Linked DNA regions of Homo sapiens. The protein of the gene in region 1 interacts with the protein of each later gene in a pairwise test. Each region holds a gene or a part of one and is shown in the gene's direction. Other genes may lie near its edges.

The links.
Region 2: the proteins of ZBTB7B (region 1) and ZBTB5 interact in binary tests that used the Homo sapiens proteins (3 or more experiments, as listed by UniProt).

What each region holds. Positions count from the first base shown.
Region 1 is NC_000001.11:154,997,813-155,005,801, forward strand, and holds the start of ZBTB7B (zinc finger and BTB domain-containing protein 7B), read left to right. Parts: upstream 1-4,989; 5' UTR 4,990-5,030; coding exon of another isoform or gene 5,031-5,131; intron 5,132-7,989. UniProt on the Homo sapiens protein: Transcription regulator that acts as a key regulator of lineage commitment of immature T-cell precursors. Exerts distinct biological functions in the mammary epithelial cells and T cells in a tissue-specific manner.
Region 2 is NC_000009.12:37,455,442-37,462,472, reverse strand, and holds part of ZBTB5 (zinc finger and BTB domain-containing protein 5), read left to right. Parts: intron 1-7,031. UniProt on the Homo sapiens protein: May be involved in transcriptional regulation.

The sequences.
Region 1 (7,989 bases):
AGGCCCAAAGAGGTGAAATGATTCGCCCAAGAACATACACAGCACACTGAGGTAAAGGAGTCATTTAGCGAACCCAGATTTTCAGATCCCCAACTCACGGCTTCTCCTAATGAGCCTGCCTTCCTCTTCTGAGCTGGTGTTTGCATGGAGATGGTGGCCAAAGTGGCCTGGAGGCAGGGCCATGCAAACAAAAGCATGGAGGGTACCACCTCCATGCACCCGCTCCATGCCACTTCCCACCTCAGCCCTAAGCTCCCTGTTCTCAGCCCATTTGGAGGTTTCAGGTGCAGCCCTTTCACCTAATCCACACAGCCAAGAGATCTTTCCTGGCCCATGGCTCCCCACTCTGTGGCTGTTCCCCCACAAGTATCTCTCCCCGACTAGGGCAACTCAGGTTTTGAGTGTCCAAATTACTCCCTCAGGAACTCAAGTGGAGTAAGGTGGGAGGGAGGTGAAGGAGACAGGGTACCAAGATATTAGGTTGGTGCAAAAGTAATTGCGGCCTTTGCCATTAAAACCTCACCTACCCCTCGGTGCCCTGGTGCCCTCTAATGGTCACAGGGGGTGGGGGAATGGGTGGAGTAGGAATGGAGACAGGAGGGACCAGCTGGATGTGACCCTCAAGTACAACAGCGAGAGGAGAAGCCTGATATCCAGGATTCCCGGCGGATTACATCGGATACAGGACCCTCGTTGGCATGCAAGGAACAGTTGGAGGAGAGGGGTCACGGCCCAAGGGTCTGAGGAGCGGCAGGCAATAAACTGGATATCATAGCAATAATCTGGCGGCGGGGAGGGGTGGGTGGGTGGGGATGTCCCACGTTTTCCCAACACCAAGAGGCCGGCAAAAAGGGGTGTGTGGCAATCATTTCACTGGCAGCGCCAGAGCGCAGACCCATCCCCAAGGGCATAGGCTTTTTTTTTTTTTTTTTTTTTTAAAGACGGGGTTTGGCTCTTGTTGCCCAGGCTGGAGTGCAATGGCGCGATCTCGGCTCACCGCAACCTCCGCCTCCCAGGTTCAGGCAATTCTGCTTCAGCCTCCTGAGTAGCTGGGACTACAGGCGTGTGCCACCACGACTGGCTAATTTTTGTATTTTTACTAGAGACAGGGTTTCACCATGTTGGTTAGGCTGGTCTCGAACTCCTGACCTCAGGTGTTCCACCCGCCTCTGCCTCCCAAAGTGTTGAGATTACAGGCGAGAGCCACCGCGCCCGGCATGGGCATAGGCTCTTATTTGCATCATATTTACATCTGTCTTGCATGTGAGTTATTTCCCTCCACCCAACTTTCTCAGTTACTCTCAGACTCTAGAGTGTTCGCCAGCCTTGGAGCGTACCCGTTCCTCCAGCCATTCTTCGGCCTCAGTTCCTTTCCATCATTCGCCCTCAGGCCTTCGCCTACCCCAGCTTCAAAGAAGCGACCGTAACCTCCTAGCTGGCTGGGTTCGAGAAGCCGGGGACCTGCGCCTCCTGGTGGCTGATCGGAAGGAGGCTGAGTGCAGAGGGGTTGTCTTGCCTTCTCTGGGACGTGGAGTTTTGGAAACTGTTCCCCTGAGCTTCCTGAAGCTAAATTTGCCTCCCCCGGCCTTGGGGGGCGCAGAGATCCCGGCGGCGATTAGCGCTGCGCGGCAGCCGGCTCCAACCCAGAGGCCCGGAATAGGCGCGGAGTTATAAATAGTGCCACCCGCAGGTGTTGGGGGGAGTCGGCGGGAGGGGGGTACCCCTGGCGGCCACGGCCCCTTCAGGTGGGTTGGGCGGTCGCGGTGGGAGCGCTGGGGGGCGGGGGGCGTGGGGGGTCTGCGGTCTGAGCGCCCCCAGCGGTTTCCTGGGCGGCGGGTTTTTCGAGGGAAGCGGAGGCAGCGGAGGATGGGGGGGAGCAGCGGAGAAGAGGTGGGCGCCTGGCGCATGCTGACGCTCCGCTTGCAGCTCAGCCCCCCACATTCCGAAACAGGCCCCCAGACCCACTCACGCAGGACCCCGCCCAGGCAAAGCCTCGCCTTTCTTAACACCTGAAGGCCTCATTCCCCCAGGTTCTGCAAGCATCTAACTTCTATGCTTCTACCCTTCGGCGCACGTGGCCCGGCCAGTCCGCGCACCTGGCCGTCATTCCGAGTCGCTGTCCCCAGCCCCAGGTATTCAGTCCTCCCACTCGGGGCTTTCATTCCTCTCTTAGGGTAAACACTTCCTTCTCTGGGTATTTGTCCAACTCGTGCTACTCTCCCCAAATTTAAGGTCTAGCTGGTCACCTAAAAATTTAAGTCTTAACATGCGGATCTGGGACGCTCTCCTATCCCCAGGCGGCCCCTGCAGGCCCCTCACTTGCCCTCCAGCTCCCAGTTCCAGTCTGGGCCTAGTGGCGGGGCGGGGGCGGCCGGCCCCTGGGGCCCAGCAGGGGTTTCATGGGAGGGGGCGGGGTCCCCAGTCAGCGTTTCTCTGCCGCCGCTGTTTCAGTCGTTTGGCGTGGTTAGGGGTTGGGGTAAGAGGGAATTTCAAGTAGGGGTTCCCCGCTCCGATTTCTGAGTAAGGAGGGGAGCTATTTGCACCAGGAGAAAAAGAGAGACAAGGGAGGGTGGGCGTCACTGAGGAACTAACTGCGGGTTCCAGGACCATTGGGAATGAGGTGAGGAGTGGCAATCTAGCCGCAGAAAGATCAGTCATGTTCAGCCAGACGCAGAACGCGACCCTCAAACATGGGGGAAGTTGGGCGAGGCGAGCCTGAGGCACTGGGCACCTTTCGAGTTTCTGTACCCAAAGGCTGGTGCCAGGGAGCCCGCCCTTCTATTGCCTCTGGAAGCCCTGGCTCTGCCCTCCCCGGGCCACGTTCCCACCCCCCCCGCCCCCCGCCCCCTGCCCCCCGCCCCCTTTCCTTGGCTATCCTCCTTCCTCCCCAAAGCAGCCCCCTCTCCATTTCACTTGTGGCACTGCCGCCTAGCCCCTAGCACAGCCCTTCACCAGGCCTGCACGACCCAGACGGCTGGAGTAGGAAGGGGAAAACCCCGGCCTGGACGGCTCCGGGCCCCTCCGGACCAGGATCTGTCCGGCGGGGCTGAGAAGAAAACCCGGAGCAGTGATCAGCCTCGCGACCCAAGGGGGTCAGGGACGATAGGAAAACCCGGAGCGGATTACTCGAGCCAGAGCGCCCCATGCCTGCCGCTACCTCCTCCTTCCTATAGCCCCCCTAATTCTCCAGTGAGATAATGTCTGGGGTGGGGGGCTGTTTGGTTTGGCCTGAGCCCTCAGGGGCGCCTCACACTTTCCGCCCCTGGCTGGGGCGCAGGGCAGCGGCCCCGAGGCTGAGTCACGGCCCGGCGCGGAGAGGGAGAGAGGGAGAAAGAGGGAGGGAGGGACCTGGACTCCGCCCCTCGTGCGCGGGGATCCCGGGTCAGCCCGGGTGAGGGCCAGGGCCCCCCTGGCGCCGCCCATTGTGGTCCAACAGGTTGAGCTGGTGTCCCGAGAAGCCACCTGCTGGAAAGGGAGGGAGGCCCCCTGCGGAGGGGGGTTGGGAGGGGAAAGCGAGTCCGACCCGGTTCGGCCTGGCTTGTCGCAGGGGAGCCAAACCTGGCCCTAGGTAGCCGGATTTGATTCCATTTGACACTAGTGGGAGGGGCCCTTTGGGGTACGCAGCTCCGCAGGCTCAGTCAGAAACATCCTTCACCCGCTACCTTTCTCAGTTGGGGGACTCCTAAGTATTTATCCCGGTCCTCCCCAAAACCTACACATACCACACATCCCAAAACATCCAGGCACCCCTCGCCACCTGGGTCTCTCAGCGAATTCATGTCAAGCTATCCCTCCTCGGTGGAGACTCAGTTTCTCCACTTAGGGAACCCGCGGGATGGAGGTGGGGAGCAAAAGCGTCGGCGCGCCCCCTCCCCCTTCGCAGACTGGGCCCCTCCCCTCCGACAATGCCAAGGCCGCAGCGGGCACTGGCGACAGCACAGAGGCTGCTTGCCTGGGGCGCCCTTCCCTCCCCGCGGGGCACCGTCACGCGTGGGGAGGGACGCAGGGCGCCCGCAGGCTCAACTCCCCGGCTCCCTCCGAGAGGGGGTGGGGCGTAGGGGCCGGAGCCGAAGGCCTGGTGGCTCCCCCTCCCCCTCCCTTCTAGGTCCCTGACCTGATTACAGCCCCTCACGGGACCCCCTCCCTCAAGACCCTAAGTCCCCAATTCACCCCCACCCAGCCTATCCCTAACCTCTCATACCCTTCCCTCCTGAGGTCCTGACCCTACAGAAGCCCCTCTTGAAGGAGAGGGAGCCCCTGTAGGGGGTGCTCGATTCCCTGGCCGCTGCGGACACTGCCCCCTCCCCCCTCCTCTCCAGGTTCCAGGCCAGCCCCTCGGCTCCGCCCCCTCCCTGGACGAACGCAAGGCGAGACCTACTGGAGATGAGCGGGTATTCAGGCCAATGAGCGGACAGGGCGGTGGCGTGCAGGGGGCGGGCAGAGCAGCAGCAAAGGGCTGGATGGGGGCCGGGGGCGGAGTTTGAGTTAAGGTGGACTGGGAGAGATAGGGGCAGGAGAAAGGGGGGGGAGAGAGGGACCGCGGCAGGTGAAGGGAGACAGAGAGAAGGAAAGAAGGAGGGAAAGGAGGAGGGTGGGAAAGGCTAGGAGAGCTAAGTAAGAGTTTGGAGAAGGGGGCAAAAAAGGAGGGAGGGACCCATCTGCGCTCTGCAGGGACTGGCTGGACGAAGGGGTTGAAGTTTATGTCCTTATTGGGCGGAGGGAGGGGGCCTGGGGGGGCGGGTGAAAAACCAGGAAGTGACAGAGGGTGTTTCTAAGTGTTGGGGGGGGGGAGTTTGGGGGGTGGCAGGGGCGGGGGGAGGGAGGGGAGGGATGGGGGGAAAGCAAGCTGGAGGACAGGTGAGACAGCAGGACAGGTGAGGCGGGCCCTGAGGGGGGGGCGGGTGGGAGCCAGGTGAATGTACGGCTCTTGGCGGCCGAGGGGGGGCGGGCGGCAGGAGGAGGCAGAGGGCGGCGGAGGAGGAGCCCCCCAGCAGCGAGCGGCGAGCAACTGACCGCGGCCTTCTGACCAGGACCGGAGCAGGGCCCCAAGCCCCCGGGCCTGGTGGGGGACGCGCTTCTTCCCACACTGTGAGCCTCAGCAGCTCCAGCCAGCGGACCCGACGGCTGAGAGGTGAGTGTACCCCACTTTTGTCTCCTGGCTCGGGGTTCACTAGGCTCGAGACTACTGCAGTGTCCTTCGTCCGTCCTGTAAGTGGGACCCCCAGATACACACGCATGCAGATCACATTCCCACCACTCCCCTTCCCTGTGCTTTCCCAACACCCCGGGTCTCTGGAATTGGTTTTAACTGAGATGAAAGACAGAGAAGGAACTGCGGATGCCCCCCAACCCTAGGCGGAGGGTCCCCAGAAAGTTTATCTGCACTTCTCCTGGGATCAGACAGACAGACGGCTTCGGGATGGAGAGGGGGTGAGGCGACGCTGAGCGTTCCCCCAGTCTCCTTCGTGACTTTAGGGGGAGACCCCAGACCGGACTGAGTTGAGGGAATGGAAACGCTGACGGACTCTAACTAGGACAACGCGCACCCCCCCCCCACCCCGCGCCCCCTGGCGCGGTGGATTGGCCCCAGGCCAGTTGCATGGGGGTTGGGGGGGCGCAGGAGGAGCCGCGGCTTGGGGGAAAGTTACCGGCTGGACTATTCGGTTTCTTGCGCTTCCAGAGCCGCGCTCTCTCCAGCGGTAGTGGGGCTCAGCAACAACCTCTGAACCGACATAGAACGACCGCTCTCTTCCCTGCCCCTCAATCCCACTCCCTTCCTTCAGGCTCCAGTCCCGCCGCTACCTTTTCCACGCCAGCTCATGACCACAGAACCCAAGAGCGAGGGCGGGTGACTAGGAAGAATTCTCCTACCTACTACCCGTCCCCCCACCGGCGCCGGCGCACCTGCCCCAGCCCAGAGTGGGGGTCGCTACTGTGTTGTTGTAGAACCTACAGAGTGCGCCTGGCAGAAGGCTGCCATTCAAAGGGGTGGGGGGCGCTGCTTTCAATTTCCAGCTTTCTCTCCCTCCTCCCACCCCATCCCAAGTAAGAGAGCGACGTGTCCCGGCCAGAGCGAGGTGGGGGCGGGAGTGGGGGGGCGGCGTGGGCAGCGGGTTGTGCCCGGACACGTGCCTGCCCAGGCGCCCCGGCCCTGCTGGTGTTTAGAGAGAGGGCGGGTCCCCTGCCCCCCGCCCCGCACAACCCCCACGTATCAAAGGGCGGCTGAGACATGGTGAGACCTCGGGGCGCCCTGGGGGGCAGGGGGGCGGGGAGCCTGGGTCCGGAGCAGGGGAGGGGCAGAGGCGCCGGTGCTAGCTGACCCACAGGAAACGAGCGCTGCTGACCTAGTTTGGGACACCGGAAGTGGGTGCTGGGGAGAGGGGGAGACCGGCAGGCTGTCCAGGCTTCCGGGCCAGGTGGAGGGTGTTCTTGAATTGACCCCCGCCCGAATGCCTTGGAGACCCCTAGCTGCAGCCGAGAATGGGAATGAGTCAGCGCAGCTATTCCCCCTTCCCCCAACTTATTCCTGGAGGAGGGAGACCGCTTATCAGGGACGGGGGAACCAGATTGGGCTGTGAGGGGTTAAAGCAGGATGGGAACTGTCTGGTCCCTAAGGGAGTATGTGTGAGTGTGGGGATGAGGCCTGGAGGATTATGGGGTTGCCTCCTGCTGCCCCACACACACCAACTGGTTTGGTCACCCCTGTACCCGCCTGGCACTGCTGGGAGAGCTGGCATGGAGTGGACATCAGGTTGGGGAGGAGAGAGTGGGCATAAGGAGTGTTGTGCTGCGCTAGAGAGGGACATATGTGTGACTATGTCTGGATGATAGTTAGTGTTCCTCCTTAGTGGTAACTGGGGAGAAGGGTAGGGGGCTCCCCCTGGAGCAGCTGATGAAACAAGGAGAAATCTCTGTCAGTGCCTCTGTCCCTGGCCCCAGGGACCCCAGCTCCCCCAGCGTGCCTCTGTTACATGGTTGCTGTGGGCACAACACAACCTGCTGGCACCCCCAGACACTGTCCCCTCCCTTGGGTACCACACACCCCCAGCCCTGGCACAGGGGTCAAAAAGGGGTTAATACCACCAGAATGGGGCTCTGGGGAAGAAAGAAGGCAGTGCCCACTAGGCTCAGGTGTCAAGGAGACAGGCTTGCTCTAATGGGACTCTCATCACTACTCAGTTCTGGCTGATGTAGACCCCAGTGTCTGGAAGACAGGTGCTGTCCCCTTCTTCTTCCCCATGGTGCCCCCTGGCACCCAGGGCCCCCAGCTCCTCCTTGGCCTAGTGCCTGCCCAGGGAGGGTGCGGCGGGCAGCGGGGGCTGGGCTAACAATGCACCATCAGGCCCTTTGTGTGCCTGCACTTGGCACCCTGGGGAAGGGTGGGGGAGGGGGCCCAGCAGGCATGGGGGGCGGAGCGCTCTGGGGTGGGGACAGTGAAGGCTGGGGGAGAGAAGCAAATGAAAGCAGGTGGGGAGGAAAGGGAAGTAGGTCAGATAGGGTGCCAGCCCCCCATTCCAAGCCAAGGCTGAGAGAACCAGCCCCTGATCCTATGGCTGCCTGGATGGCATCAGACTGAGGGACAGCCTAGGACTGGGCATTTGGGGTCAGAAGTCACTGCCCAGGGGACTGCTCAGATGGAGAAGGTTTGGCCTGGTACTGCCCCCTTCTTAATGGCTGAGAGACCCAATTCTTCTGGCCCAAGACCAAGGCCCCAAGATGAGTAGTGAATGGGCTCCAGGCAGGGCACTGCCCTCTGACAGAAGCCTCTGGGCCTGCTGCGGGGCTTCCTGCCTCTGCCCCGCTTGGCTCCCTGACCTTCCTGAGAGTTAAGACTGCCCTGACACCAGGCCTTAGGGCCTATGCCTGTTTTGGCCTAGGGCGGGAGAGAACAGTGGGGGAGGAAGGTGGGGACAGGCAGATGGATAGGACCCTGGCATGGGGTGTGCCCGCCCTGGCCTCTTCCCCCTCCTTGTGCTGAGTAAACTCGTG
Region 2 (7,031 bases), on another chromosome or scaffold:
GTGGGGATCAGTCAGAGGAAAGCATGCCAAATGGGAACACAGGTTCTCAATCTGGTCCGTGGATTTGACTTGTAGCTTGGCTTTCAAGCTTTTAAACTGTCTTCGGCTTGGAGGTGGGGTTTCACTGGGGATGTGCCCCTGTCTGCCTAGGCATTTGTCTGTCTCCTGCCTCTATCATAGTAGTCATTGGCAGACAGTTTTCCTTCCTTGAAGACAGGATACCATAAGTAAGCATTATGCCATAGCTTAATTGGCAGTTTTTTTCCTAGTGTTACATGAAATAATGCATTTTATAATCACAGACATCTTAGATTTAATGAAATTTGGTAAAATTAATAGAATTTTAGCTCAGGTGGCACACACCTGTAGTCCCAACTACTTGGGAGTCTGAGGCAGGAGGATCACTTGAGTTCAAACCAGCCCAGGCAACATAGTAAAATCCTGGCTGCCTATCCCCCATAAAGAGACTTTTGTACCCAACTAATTCCTTGTAATTGTAACCAATAAATTTTCCTAATTCGTTTTCCTGCTCTGGAAAATGTTTGTTACTGAAAAGAAGCCTATCGAGCGTGATATTTTTCCTTATGTAAATGGAAATTAACAAATAAAATGTTCATTTTACAAATTTTAAAGGATGATTAAGTGATAGGTCTACTTTTTGGAAATTATACTTGGTAATCTGTTACTTTGTATGGTAACAGGTTTACAAATGCCTTTATTCCTAATTTACTTTTTTTTTTGAGACAGGGTCTCACTCTGTCACCCAGGCTTGAGTGCAATGGCATAATCTGATCTCGGGTCACTGCAACCTCCGCCTCCTGGGTTCAAATGATTCTTGTGTCTCAGCCTCCTGAGTAGCTGGGACTACAGCTCGTGCCACCATGCCCGACTAATTTTTGTACTTTTTGGTAGAGACAGGGTTTCGCCATGTTGGCCAGGCTGGTCTTGAACTCCTGACCTCAGGTGATCCGACTGCCTTGGCCTCCCAAAGTGCGTGATTACAGGCATGAGAGCCACTGCACCTGGCTGATTGCCATTTTCTTAAGTTTAAAATGTTTAGGGTGAGTTGCTCCCCTTTTTTTCTATGCATGATATTGTTGACATGGTATAATTAATTTTTCAGTACATCTTAGTCAATTATAATTTAAAATCCACTCAACCATCTTCCTCTAAAAATACAAGGCTTTCACCTTTATAGTCCTTATGGTTTAGTCTTTTTTGCGAAGAGGATTTGAGGAAGGAAGACCAGGAAAACAAAATCCAGTGTTTGGGCATTTGGTTGTGGGAGGAGCCCAGAAATGCTACAAAAATCTAAACACATTTAAGTTACTTAGATTGTACTTATTTTGAATAGATGATCAAAAGCAACTCTGCAGGTCAAGTGAAGGTCACTTGCTGAGCATTATTGATTTGATAAATGATTGAGAAGTGAAGGCATATACTGCTTTGAAAGTAAACTAGGTGTAAGAAATGGATTAAGTCCATGTTCATCTTCTCTGTTGGAAAGGCACCATAATAATAGTGTCTCCAAAGCTTTGTCATAGTTTTCATCTTGATAAAAGTTTAGTTTTTTTTTTTCTTTCTACTTTGTTCTGTTTTGCTTTTGAGATAGGGTCTTGCTCTGTCACCTGGGCTGGAGTGTAGTGGGATGGTCATAACTCACTGCAGCCCCAAACTCCTGGGCTCAAGCAACCCTCCCCCACCCAGCCTCCCAAGTAGCTGGGACTACAGGCATGCACCACCACGCCCAGCTAATTTTTGTATTTTTTGTGGAGGTGGGGGTCTCCCTATGTTTTCCAGGCTGGTCTTAGACTCCTGGACTCAAGCATTTCTCCCACCTTGGCCTCCCAACATGTTGAGATTATAGGCGTGAGCCACCATGCCCAGCACCCAGCTAATTAAAAAAAAATTTTTTTGTAGAGAAAAGGTTTTGCTATGTTAACCAAGCAGGTCTCAAATGAGCCTCCCGCTTCAGCCTCCCAAAGTACTGGGATTACAGGTGTGAGCCCCGCATCTGGCCTAATTTTTTTGGGGGGGGAGTGTTCACTCTTATTGCCCAGGCTGGATCCAGCGCAATGGCGCGATCTTGGCTCACTGCAACCTCCACCTCCCGGGTTCAAGCGATTCTCCTGCCTCAGCCCCCGAGTAGCTGGGATTACAGGCATGCACCACCATGCCCGGCTAATTTTTTATTTTTGGCAGAGACAGGGTTTCTCCATGTTGGTCAGGCTAGTTTCGAACTTCCGACCTCAGTTGATCCACCCGCCTCGGCCTCCCAAAGTGCTGGGATTACAGGCGTGAGCCACTGTGCCTAGCTGGACTAATTTTTTTCATTAAGAAAGAAGTTTCTTGGCCAGGCCCAGCATTTTGGGAGGCTGAGGTAGGCAGATCACAAGGTCAGTAGCTTGAGACTAGCCTGGCTAATATGATGAAACCCAGTCTTTACTAAAAATTAAAAAAAATGGCCTGGCGCAGTGGCTCACGCCTGTAATCCCAGCACTTTGGGAGGCCGAGACGGACAGATCATGAGGTCAGGAGATCGAGACCATCCTGACTAACAAGGTGAAACCCCGTCTCTACTAAAAATACAAAAAATTAGCCAGGTGTGGTGGCGGGCGCCCGTAGTCCCAGCTACTTGGGAGGCTAAGGCAGGAGAATGGCATGAACCCGGGAGGCAGAGCTTGCAGTGAGCCGAGATCGCACCACTGCACTCCAGCCTGGGCAACAGAGCAAGACTCATTTCAAAAAAAAAAAAAAAAATTAGCTGGGCATGGTGGTGCACGCCTGTAATCCCAGCTATTCGGGAGGCTGAGGCAGGAGGATTGCTTGAACTGGAGGTTGCAGTGAGCTGAGATTGTGCCACTGCACTCCAGCCTGGGTAACAGAGTGAGACTCTGCCTGAAAAAAAAAAAAAAGTTTCTTGATCTGTCAGGGGTAAAAGACATGTTTAAAAGTTGTTTATGCTACACATCAGTTGGGATTGGAAAGAAAAGAAAACTTTTTTTTTTTTTTGAGATAGAGTTTTGCTCTTGTTGCCCAGACTGGAGTACAGTGGTGCGATCTTGGCTCACTGCAACCTCTGCCTCCCAGGTTCAAGCGATTCTTCTGCCTCAGCCTCCCGAGTAGCTGGGATTACAGGCATGTGTCACCACGCCCCACCAATTTTTTGTATTTTTAGTAGAGACGGCTTTTCTCCATGTTGGTCAGGCTGGTCTCAAACTCCTGACCTCAGGTGATCCACCTGCCTTGGCCTCCCAAAGTGCTGGGAGTACAGGCTGAGAAGCAGGGGCTGGCATGCCCATGCCCTGTTTTACATTTTTTGTAAATCTCTTTAATATGTAGTTTAATAGAAGACAGCTGGATTCCATTAAATGCTTCTGCATTCATTTTGCCGTGATACACTATTTTGATTAAAATATACCAAAAAACTCCAGCATCACACAAATATGTAGTTGGAAAGGGAGGATTATTTCAGTAGATTTTTCAGATAATTTTGGATATTCTTACTCTGATACTGTACCAAAACTCCACAAGTGGTATTTTCTTAAGTGATTAGTGCAATGTGGAATCTGAAATTATGTCAATGAACTTTTCATATTCTGTTGCATTAAAATACATTAGCTTATGTTTTGTACCTTGAATGAATTTTTACCCATACCTTGTTTTATAGCATTATTGTTACATGGCTACATGGTCATTTGGAAAATACTGATTTCAGAGTTATGCAGATCTTCCAAACGTTGACTCATTTATTATACAATGTAAAAAAATCACATTTCATTAATATCACCAATGATCTGTCAGAAGAATTTGAGCATGTGGGAAGCTGTCAAGCTCACAGTGACAGATACAAGTTTTCCAAAATACTAATTTTCACCTGAATTCTCAAACTTTTTTATTGGCAATAAGTAGTACTAAGTTATCTTATTTAAAATAACAGGCTTGTTTCATTCATTTTTTCATTCATTTTCAAGAAAATGGTAAATACTTCTAAATAACCATAGTTTGTCATTCGTTCTTTCAAGTAAAAATAGTGTCCCATGAGAAAAGCAATTAGTTGAGCCACCTCAAAAACTGCACAAGTGCTTTTTCTTGAGGCAACTTGTATTTCAGAATGCAGGAGGAAAACTTCAGGTGTACTTCCCATTTTATCACACATATTGAAAACAGGTACTCAAGAGTTGAGACTTAATAACAGATGTAGGGAAGGGGAGGCTGGGTCTCCATTGGAGTGAGCATTTGGTTAGTAGTAGCTGTGTTCAGCACAGATGTTTGGCATTCTGACCTGATTGTTCCTGCTGCCTAGCTTAATTTCTTCCCAGTTCAATCTTACGTATCCAGCCTTCCCATCAATTCCATGATCAAACTAATAGCCTTTCAGTAAATTACTTTTATGTTTAGGATCAATTTTTGTTGCTGCAACCAATGACTCTGGCTGATGTGCTGCTTAAACTTAAGAAAAAAACCCTAAAATACTTTTTAAGAAAGTAATCTCAAAAGTGATGATAGCCTTTAGTTCAAAAGTATGTGCCTCATGGTTAACCTTTCTGATGACTTGTAATTATTAACATCAGTTATGAGCAGTCACTATCCAATACCTACCTTTCTAGCCATACTATTTTCCAGCCAAATCGAATACATTGCTTTACCCACCTCAACCCCTTCTCCACCTTTACCTCTGTCTAGGGGTTTGTCCAAATCCAACCAAGACCTAGCTCTGTTGTCAACGCTACCATGAAGCTAGAAATAACCTTTGCCTTCTCCAAACCATTGAGAGGTTCTTTCACCTCTTATGTGGCACTTAGTGCCTTCCACTTTGTAATATCGTTATTCATGTATATCTTATTTCCACTAAATACCTGTGACAGTTAGTACTGTCCCATACAAATCTATGCTCCACAGCGCTTAACCTTGAACAAGTAAGCACTTTAAAACATTAGATGATGCTGGCATGGTGGCTCACACTTGTAATCTCAGCACTTTGGGAGGCCAAGGTAGGAGGAATACCTGAGCCCAGGAGTTCGAGACCAGCCAGAGCAACATAGTGAGACCCGTCTCTACAAAGAATAAAAAATTAGCTGGGCATGGTGACGTGCCTGTAGTACCAGTATTTGGGAGGCTGTGGTGGGAGAGTCACTTGAGCTAGGGAAGTGGAGGCTACAGTGAGCTGTGATTGCACCACCACACTCCAGCCTGGGTGGCAAAGCAAGACTCTGTCTCAAAAACAAAACAAAACAAAAAACATATTACATGAATGAACTTGTATACAAAAAATACACAAGTACCTTTATGGGCTGTTGAGGTCCCTTGAGCTGTATACTACCTAGCTCCAAGCTGCTGGGCCTCTTTTCCCCCTTAGTGGGTCAGCTGTCTCTTTCTGCAGCTATCAGCTTAACTTCATTTAAGCAGCCACTCCTTGCTCTCATTCTGGAGTTGCTGCTTCAGTTAGTTAGGGAACTAGAAAAACTTGAATTTTGTTTCGAACAAAAGACTGTGTGAGGGCTTAAGGGACTTTCCTATGAGAAAATCTTTCATCCATAGTCTTTGATCTTTATTTTGGATATTCTGAGACTTTTTCTTCTGGTTTTTGGCTGATTTTAGAGATAGTTGTGATTCTCAGAAAAGTGATTTTTGGGTAATACATTATACTTCATCCATATATAGCAAAAGTTTATTCAGCAAATAATTTACTGAGTATTTTATGTCAGGCACTTTGAGAGAGAGAAAATACAGTTCCTGCCCTCAATAAGCTGTTTTAGTAGAAAAAGCATTTGAGCTTGTACTAGGAACCTAAGTAGGGCACTAATACCTTTTCTTATTCAAACTGAGTTACAGAGCTCTAGGTCAATTCATCCCTAGGGATTTTGGCCTGGAAAACAAGGTGGCAATGTGGAGAGAATTGGAGAGTTAGGTGAGATGGTCAGGGCTTCCAGCTCGCCTTCCTCAGTCATGCTCATCTTTAGTCACTAGTGGAATTTTCCTGTTTTATAGAACTAATCTGTTCAGTTTCTGAGCCAACCCTGACAGAGCAGAACCAGAGATATTATGACATTAGTCATGCTGACAGGTCTGGTTTCTTGGGGTTAACCCAGGCATCATTGTGCCCACCTAGTTCCAGCCTTCCCCTACTCCCACTTTGCTGGTCAAATTAGAACAATGGATGGATGTTCCAGTACTCCGCTCTGTCTGACTTGGAGCCCTGTCAAAATTCCTAGCCTGGGCCAGGTGGGTGGGTGGCTCACGGCTGTAATCCCAGCACTTTGGGAGGCTGAGGCAGGTGGATTGATTGAGCCCAGGAGTTTGAAACCAGCCTGGGCAACATGGCAAAACCCCCTATCTACAAAAAATACAAAAATTAGCCAGGCATGGTGACACGCACCTGTAGTCCCAGCTACCCAGGAGGCTGAGGTGGGAGGATCACCTTGAGCCTGGGAGGTCAAGGCTGCAGTGAACCGTGATCAGGCCACTGTACTCCAGCCTGAGTGAGAGAGTGAGATCCTGCCTCAAAAAAAGAAAAAAAAAAAAATCCTAGCCTGCACTTCCGGAGCCTGTGGTAGGAGGATTGCTTGAGCGCTGGAGTTCAAAAGCAGCCTGGGCATATTGAGACCCCACCTGTATTTAAAAAAAAAAAATCCTAGCCTACTTGAGTGGGTCCTTGCTTTGTTCTGCTCTCTGACTTTTGTTTTCATCTATATCGTCTCTACAAGTGGAGGAAATGTTCTGTCTAGTTATTTTTCTGCTGATGAAATGGGAGAGTTCTCTGAACCCCCCTCGCAGGACGTGTGACAATGATGTGGCTCGTCTGTTTGGCTGCCACCACTGCTAAAACCCTTTACAGGAGGAGGAGCACAGAGACAGGCAGGGGCAGGAGCTGGGGCAAGCTCTTTTAGGCTCTGGCCCCACGGTGGCATCTAGGGGTGGGTGCCTGCAGCTCCCGAAGCCCCATTGGGCATGCTACAGTGCTCTTTTAGCTTGCCATATGCAGATGGGTTAAGTGTTAACCAGCTCAGTACCTTCTTGGTATTTGGGTT